Homo sapiens: one gene and its partner. The protein of the gene in region 2 purifies or fractionates together with the protein of the main gene of each other region. This does not show direct contact. Each region holds a gene or a part of one and is shown on either strand. Other genes may lie near its edges.

Region 1 (3,906 bases), on a different chromosome or scaffold from region 2:
ATCTTGGCTCACTTCAAGCTCCGCCCCCCAGGTTTACGCCATTCTCCTGCCTCAGCCTCCCGAGTAGCTGGGACTACAAGCACCCGCCACCACGCCCAGCTAATTTTTTGTATTTTTTTGTATTTTTAGTAGAGATGGGATTTCACTGTGTTAGCCAAGATGGTCTCCATCTCCTGACCTCGTGATCCACCCCCCTTGGCCTCCCAAAGTGCTGGGATTACAGGCGTGAGCCACCACGCCTGGCCATGACAGCGTATTTTTAAAATGAAGTTACTAAATGAAAAATCGAAAATTTAATGGAAGCAAGACTAAATTAGTTTACTGGGTTGTCTTCTTTAATTTACTTGTATCCTTTCCGTAGACAGTCTGGCACAGGTTTGAATGTGTCCTGGCTCTTCATTACTGAGGCTAATATATGCAAAAGTGTGTCCATCCCTTCTACCTTTATTCACATTCCATTACTTTTATAGACTTTTCTTTTTTTGCTTTCATAATTAATACTGGCAGTTGACTTTCTTTTCAGGGGTCTTTCTTCACAAACAAATTTTTTTCATTTTCATTTTCTATTTTTTTTTTTTTTTTTTTTTTTTTGAGACAGGGTCTCACTCTGTCACCCAGGCTGGAGTGCAGTGGGGCAATCTCAGCTCACTGCAGCCTCCTGAGTAGTTGGGACCACAGATGCAAACCACCACACCCAACTGATTTTTCAATTTTTTGTAGAGACGGGGGTCTCGCTATGTTACCCAGGCTGGTCTCAAACTCCTGGGCTCAAGCAATCCTCCCACCTTGGCCTCCCAGCATGCTGGGATTACAGGCATGACTAACCATTTAACCATAAAAAATATTTTTTTAGTCACTTAAAAAGAGACTTTGTCATGTTGAGGGTCAGATGCTAAGTTATCAGCAGGCTCAGTCATGTCCCTCTTGATTTTTAGCTGTGGAAGAGAAATGGCCCCAGTTCATCACCCTTCTCTAGCCCAGCCTCATCCCGCTCCCAGACACCGGAGAGGCCAGCAAAGAAAATAAGGTATTCGGCATTCTCCTGCAGTTTTCATTTGCTACGTGGACAGAAGGGGGTGAGGAAAGGTGGGAAACGAACCTGGCTCTTAGGCTTTGTGCTGCTGTGACTTGGAGAATCAAAGAAACTAAGTCCCTGAGAGGGACAATGCAGCACCCACCTGAACAACTATCATCCCTACAGTCTTGGATACTGACTCCAGTGGCCTCTGGCTGTCGCCTCCCACTCCAGCATGAGGGATCGGGTGCAAGCACAGAGGCCATGCAGAGTGGAGAGCAGAGAGAGTCAAGTCAGCGGGCAGTCGCCTTCAGGTTCTTGACTCGAGCTGATCCCCTAGGTGCTTGCAGTTGGCTGGAATGCCACTCCCTCAGGGATCACATCTGTGTCTAGAACTCCCAGGGACTTGGTAGGTTGTAAGTAAGGTTTGAAGATTATTGTTTTGTGCTTGTTTTAAGACAAAAACTGTCTTCATGGCCTCTGTGAACAGCCTCCCTTCATTCTGTTGGAATTTCCTGTTGACTTTTTTTATCCTGGCATACTGAGATCTTAAATGATGGTTGTTTTAGATGTTGGCCACTTGGTAGTTAGGAGGGTGTGAGAAATTATTTAATACTTCAGCCAAGAAGTCTTTCTAGACTAAATTGTTCCTTTTTTCCCAACAGAGAAGAAGAGCTGTGTCATCATTCCAGTTCTTCAACTCCATTGGCAGCAGACAAGGAGTCCCAGGGAGAAAAGGGTAGGTTGCTGAGCCAGGAGGAGGGGCTGCTGTTGGTGGTGGAGGTATTTGTGGAGGATGTAGAGATTAATACCTATTGAAAAAAGGTCTTGAGCATTGCTATGTCTAAGGCATGTTAGATACAAAGAGAGAGATTTCCTCTCCTTCAGAAGTTTATAGTCTGATGAGGGAGAAAGGCTACAGATGGGGGCTAACGATTGGATAGAGGTAAGCTCAGTTTGAGTCACCTGTGGGTGATCCCAGTAATTACTGCACAGTAAGCGGTTTGTGTGCGCGCCTTAATCTTACAAACACCATCCAAGCAACCAAACCATAGAAGATTGAATCTTTTCAGAGATACCATCATTGAAAACTCAGTGTGAAATGCGAAGTGGGTAGACACAACCATCCATTTCTGGAAGAGGGAAGGAAGCAAACGAGTCTTGATTTCTTTCTTTAGCTGCAGATACAACCCCAAGGAAGAAACAAAACTCGAATTCTCAGTCTACACCTGGCAGCTCTGGGCAGCGTAAGCGGAAAGTTCAGCTGCTGCCTTCTCGGCGAGGGGAACAGCTGACCTTGGTATGGTCTTGTCCATCTACTCCTGCCCTCCCCGGCTTAGCTCTCCTAAGTCTTAGGAACGCTAAGGACAAGTTTCTTCTGTTTTTTTTTCTAACTTATTTTTGTTTTTGTTTTTTGAGACAACATCCCTCTGTCACCCAGGCTGGAGTTCAGTGGCTCGATTTTGGCTAACCGTAACCTCTGCCTCCTGAGTTCAAGCAATTCTCCTGCCTCAGCCTCCCAAGTAGCTGGGATTACAGGCGCTTGCTACCACGCCTGACTAATTTTTTGTATTTTTAGTAGAGATGGGGTTTCACCATGTTGGCCAGGCCAGCCTCAAACTCCTGACCTCAAGTGATCCAGCTGGCTTGGCCTCCCAGAGTGCTGAGATTACCGGCGTTAGCCACCACGCCCAGCCTTCCCGTTTTTTCTGATTGGCCTGACTTCTTCTTTTTCTCTTTGGTAGCCTCCACCTCCCCAGCTTGGCTATTCGATCACTGCCGAGGACCTAGACTTAGAGAAGAAGGCTTCATTACAGTGGTTCAACCAGGCCTTGGAGGACAAGAGTGGTAAGGAGCACAGATCGTTGCACTCTCGAGAGGTTTCAGGTGTCTGTTTTCTTTGGTTTTATTTTGGTGTTTGGAAAAATGGGTTTCTCTGGGAAAATCCGAAGTAGAGTTCCATGTTTTCTTGTGGTCTTTCTCACCTGAGATATCCGTGTTGGTCTTCACGGGAACTGGACAGCAGGGACTACTGCAATTTAGGGCAGACATTCCTCCATGAGCTGTGCTGAGAGCCTGCTCTCCGACAGGCATGTGGAAAGAAGTCCCAGACAAGCCAGGACTGCTTCACCTTTCTTTCTTTCTTAGATGCTGCCTCGAACTCTGTCACTGAGACCCCACCTACCACTCAGCCTTCATTTACCTTTACCCTGCCTGCTGCTGCAACTGCCTCCCCACCCACCTCCCTCCTGGCCCCAAGCACCAACCCACTGTTAGAGAGCTTGAAGAAGATGCAGACTCCCCCGAGCCTGCCACCCTGCCCAGGTGAGCTGGAGTGGGGCCGTGGATCCAGCCTTCTGAGCAGCATCCCCGGCTTGGGTTGGAATAAGGGCGTCGTGCCTGTCAGTCGCTGGAGATTGCTCTGCAGGCCGAACGCACCCTGGCTCAGCACACCGGAGCGGGCCTACGTTTAACAGCGCCGGAGCCCACATCAGGAAGTGTTAGAGAAGGGGTGCTGCGACGCTCAGGATCTGAAGCCTGGCTTAGCTGCCCTGAGCCTCGCCTTCCTCATTTGTCAGATGAGAATGATCTTCCCGGTGCAGCACCTCTGAAGTGTGAATGTGGTGGCGTGGTCAGGATATCCTTGCCTGTCAGAACTACTGGTCCAGAACAACACTGCTTCCTTTCCCTCCAGCACTTTGAGGGCTGCTGGTGTTCCCGGCCCAGGCCTTCACGGCACTGCGCGCGCACACCTCTTTATCAGACGGTAACCTGGGGTTCGTACGCACCCTCCCTGCTCAAGGGCAGAGACTTCCCCATTCATAGTTGTGTGCTCTTAGCGCCTGGCAGGTGAGCTTAGTAGGCAAATAAAGTATATCTAGATTCATACG
Region 2 (3,906 bases):
AAGGAACTTTCTGGGGTACTGGAAATGTTTTATACCAATGCAATATGCAAAATACTACACTGTAAGACATACCAGTGTAAAAATTTTTCAAGCTGGTGCATTGTACTCTTATGATTTAAAAGAAGATTAAAGCTTGAGACTGAGCCTTGAGTAGTGATGACACTAAATGGCCAAGTAGAAGAAAATGAACTGGCAAAGAGACAGAGGAGTGGGTAGACATAGGAGGAAAACAAAGAGAGTATGATTGTCAGGAAAGCGAATAGTTCAAAAAAGAGGTGGTGGGGTCCGGGCGCAGTGGCTCACGCCTGTAATCCCAGCACTCCGGGAGGCCGAGACAGGCGGATCACCTGAGGTCGGGAGCTCAAGACCAGCCTGACCAACATGGAGAAAACCCGTCTCTACGAAAAATACAACAACAACAAAAAAATAGCCGCGCATGGTGGCACGCATCTGTAATCCAGCTACTCAGGAGGCTGAGGCAGGAGAATTGCTTGAACCCAGGAGGCGGAGGTTGCAGTGAGCTGAGATGGTGCCACTGCACTCCAGCCTGAGCAACAAGAGCAAAACTCCGTCTCAAAAAAAAAAAAAAAACAACAGCAGAAGAGTTGGTGGGCAACTATTTTAAATGCTATTGAGAGATCAAGAATAATAAAAAAAATATTTGCTGGATTCGGCAACATGAAGGTGACCACTGGCCTTAGCTAGAACCATTTAGGAGGAATGGTGATGATGGGGGAAGAAGGCAGCCTGGAGTGGATCAGAAAGTGAGTTAGAGATGAGGAAATAGAAACAGTGAAATAAACATATCACTTTTAGGAACTTTGTAAAGGGAAGCAGAGAGATACTATAGGAGCTGGCAGGTGCTGTGGAGTTGAGAGACACATGTTTTAGTTTTTATCTTAGCACAAAGACCGATACATAGCAAGTTCTCAATATATGTTAGCTGTCGTTACAGCTATGTATTTTAAGACAAGAGCATCTTCAGCATGTTTCATTGTCAATGGGGTTTCACTTGAGAAAGAGCGACCAACTGTAGAGCAGGGAGAGACAGAATTAGCAGGAGAAAGATCTTAAAAAGGCAGAGGGAATAAGATGAAAATTCTAGGTTGAGACTTTATCCTAGATAAGATGAATGTTCCCTTCTAGGGCTTGGTACCCAGAAGAAGGACAAGATCTTGTCTGAGGCTTCTATTTTCTCAGTGAAGTAAGTGGTAGCCAAGGTCATCCGCTGAGGGTGAGAGAGGAGCTAGGAAGGGTGACTGAGAAGAGTGGAGAAGTTCGAAGTAGTCATCAGAGAGAGCAAGCTGACCAGGAAAACACAGTGGGGTTGCCAGGCAGCACTGCACGCCCATTTAAGGATGTTGAGCATGAACGCAATGTGATACTAAGCTGCCCTGGTATGTGACTTCCTCAGGGAGGTCCTGACTGCCCTGGTGTGACCCTGGGGAAAGCCAGTGGTGGGTTCACCTAAGATTGGCACTTGGCCTGATGATGCAATGAAAAGACAAAAGCATCAAAAAACTAGGCCTACTCAACTTGGGAACGGGATTCCTAGGGTCTCTTCTCTATACCCTTTCTTGCCCTTCCTGCCTCTCCACACTGCTTCTCAACAGAGCACCCTCCTCCATACACACTCCTACAGCCACACACAAAGAACCCGGACTTAGAAGATCTGAAGTCAGGGTCCCACTCTGTCATTTCCCAGCTGTGTGACCTCAGGCAAGTCACACAACTCCTCTGAGCCTCAGTTTTCCCATCTTTCCAATGAAGATGTTAATAATTTCCTTCCTACAAGAATTATGAAGATCACGTGAGCTAAAGTAAAGGGAATTTGTAAATTGCAAAGCACAACTGAAAGAGATGATTAATTTTGCTAGTATGTGCTCTGCATGCAACCAGAGGTTTGCCTACACAGAAGCTTTCTCTCACAGCCACACACACCAAGCTGCATGGGCCCCCATACACCTCCACATGCTTCCACTTCACACTCTACATTCACACTCCCCTGCAGACACACACAGAGGTGCACATGTGTGCTTGCATGCTCGGGGCGCATATGTGATGAGGGTGTTGTGAGGAAGTCTGAGATGGCTGCTGTCCATGGCCAAGGCCACTGCCACAGTCTCACCCCCAGGGATGTTCTCAGCCTGGCATGCTGGTGTGACACCAACTAGAGACACATGGCACTAAGCTGCACAGCCCAACCTCCTGGGCCCCCAGAACTGTCAGCCACACAGAGGGCATGCAGAAGGGTGGGAAAGCATTTTCTATCCAAGAACTCATGGGATCTCAGAAAGATCACAATTGACCCTCCCTCTCCCTGGAGAGTGGCCTTGGAGAGCCTGGGGTGGCAGTGTCTGTCCTTACAGTTCCTTAAGGGAACTTCCCTTTCAAGTGAATACACAGCAGCTTCATGATCATTTTTAAATATTCTATGAGGAAGATGTCCAATTCCTGTGTCCAGGTAGGTTGGCGCTGCACATCCATTACACATGGGGCACCGTGGGCTTGGCCAAAGAGTCCCAGAGGAAGGACTGCCCCTCAATAAAGAATAATTTTACAACCTCCTTACAGGAGATTGGGCTTAGAAGCTAAGAAGTGGGGCCAGGTGGAACTTTGCCCAAAATAGAGACCAGGAGCCCTAATGCCCAGTCCTATCCTCCACCCAGCTAGGCACCCCTTCTCATTCTCGCTGTCTCCTTCCAGCTTTGCCTCCCAGAATGCACACCTAAGGGTCCTGACTGGGACGTTATAGGTCAGAAGGTAGAGGCTTCTGCATTGGCCACCCCAAACATACAAGTGAGGGAAAGCTTGGGGGTGGGGGTGGGCAGGGGTTGGCCAAGGCGGAAGAATGGCCGGAGAGAATTGGCCGGTTGATTTAGTTAGCTGGGGAGACACCAACATATTCTATGAACCTGGCATTTTCCGAGAGGCTGAGTTTGGCTGGGGAGATTGGGAGGACTCCCCCTGGATGTTGAGAGTCTGCTCATCCCCAGCATGTTCCCCCTTGTTCTGAAGCCCACCCCACTGGGCCCCCTTTAGTACCACCCCCATGGCTCTCAGCCCTGAACCTTCCGTGCTGCACTTAACTGCCCCAGCGCAGGACCTGGCACATGGAAGTGGCACTGTCTGCTATGGGAATGAATCCAGTGGAGCTTAACGCTCCCCTAATCCCAGCTTCTCATTCTGAATATTCTGTCTCCCTCGCTATCCCCAGAGAATTGAAATTACTTTCCACAAAACTGAAACACACTCAGAAGCAACCTCCATCCACAGCAGAACATTCCAAGCCTCTCTGTGGGCCTGCCCTTCTGCCTCCAGGACACACTGGGCATGCAGTGGCCATATCCAGGAGTTCTCCACCAGCTGGGCAGTGACAAAGTCCCAAGACTTAGAGGTGCTCCTCCCCAGCCCTCCACTTCCAGGCTTGGCCCCCAGAGGCACTTAGTTACTGAATTCCCTATTGCTTTAGCCAACAGCCCCCAGGTCAATTAGCTTAGAGTAGTTCTTAGCTGATAGCTGTCTGAGAGAGGGATGGAGTCAGAAATGGCTGGGGTCTGGGGAGAAGGGGAAGAGGTGAGAGAGGAAATTGGGCTACCTGAAGGATGTTTGTGTGTATCTGTGTCTGAGAGAGAGGCAAAAGGAGACATCTGAGACCCCAACCCAGGGACCACCCACTGGATTCCTGCAACTGCAATGGGCTCTGCTCCCATCTCCTCTCTCCACCCACCTGTGTTCAGTTTAGGCACTTCCTAGGAGAGAGGGACAGATGAGAAGGATAAGGCAGGAGGTGGTAGCCATGAACCCCTAGGGCAGGAACCCTTCCCCCAAAGTTCATGAACCCCATGAACCCCTCCTCTAAAGTTACTGTCTCCAGGTCGGCCTCTTCTATCCCTCTGCAATCTG

The links. The genes of interacting proteins can lie anywhere in the genome.
Region 1: the proteins of ASIC1 (region 2) and POM121C purify together in Homo sapiens (affinity purification with mass spectrometry, with the first as the bait; one large-scale study listed by BioGRID). This does not show direct contact.

What each region holds. Positions count from the first base shown.
Region 1 is NC_000007.14:75,423,483-75,427,388, reverse strand, and holds part of POM121C (nuclear envelope pore membrane protein POM 121C), read left to right. Parts: intron 1-935; coding exon 936-1,027; intron 1,028-1,680; coding exon 1,681-1,754; intron 1,755-2,193; coding exon 2,194-2,315; intron 2,316-2,760; coding exon 2,761-2,863; intron 2,864-3,163; coding exon 3,164-3,340; intron 3,341-3,906. UniProt on the Homo sapiens protein: Essential component of the nuclear pore complex (NPC). The repeat-containing domain may be involved in anchoring components of the pore complex to the pore membrane. When overexpressed in cells induces the formation of cytoplasmic annulate lamellae (AL).
Region 2 is NC_000012.12:50,064,096-50,068,001, reverse strand, and holds part of ASIC1 (acid-sensing ion channel 1), read right to left. Parts: intron 1-3,906. UniProt on the Homo sapiens protein: Forms voltage-independent, pH-gated trimeric sodium channels that act as postsynaptic excitatory receptors in the nervous system, playing a crucial role in regulating synaptic plasticity, learning, and memory.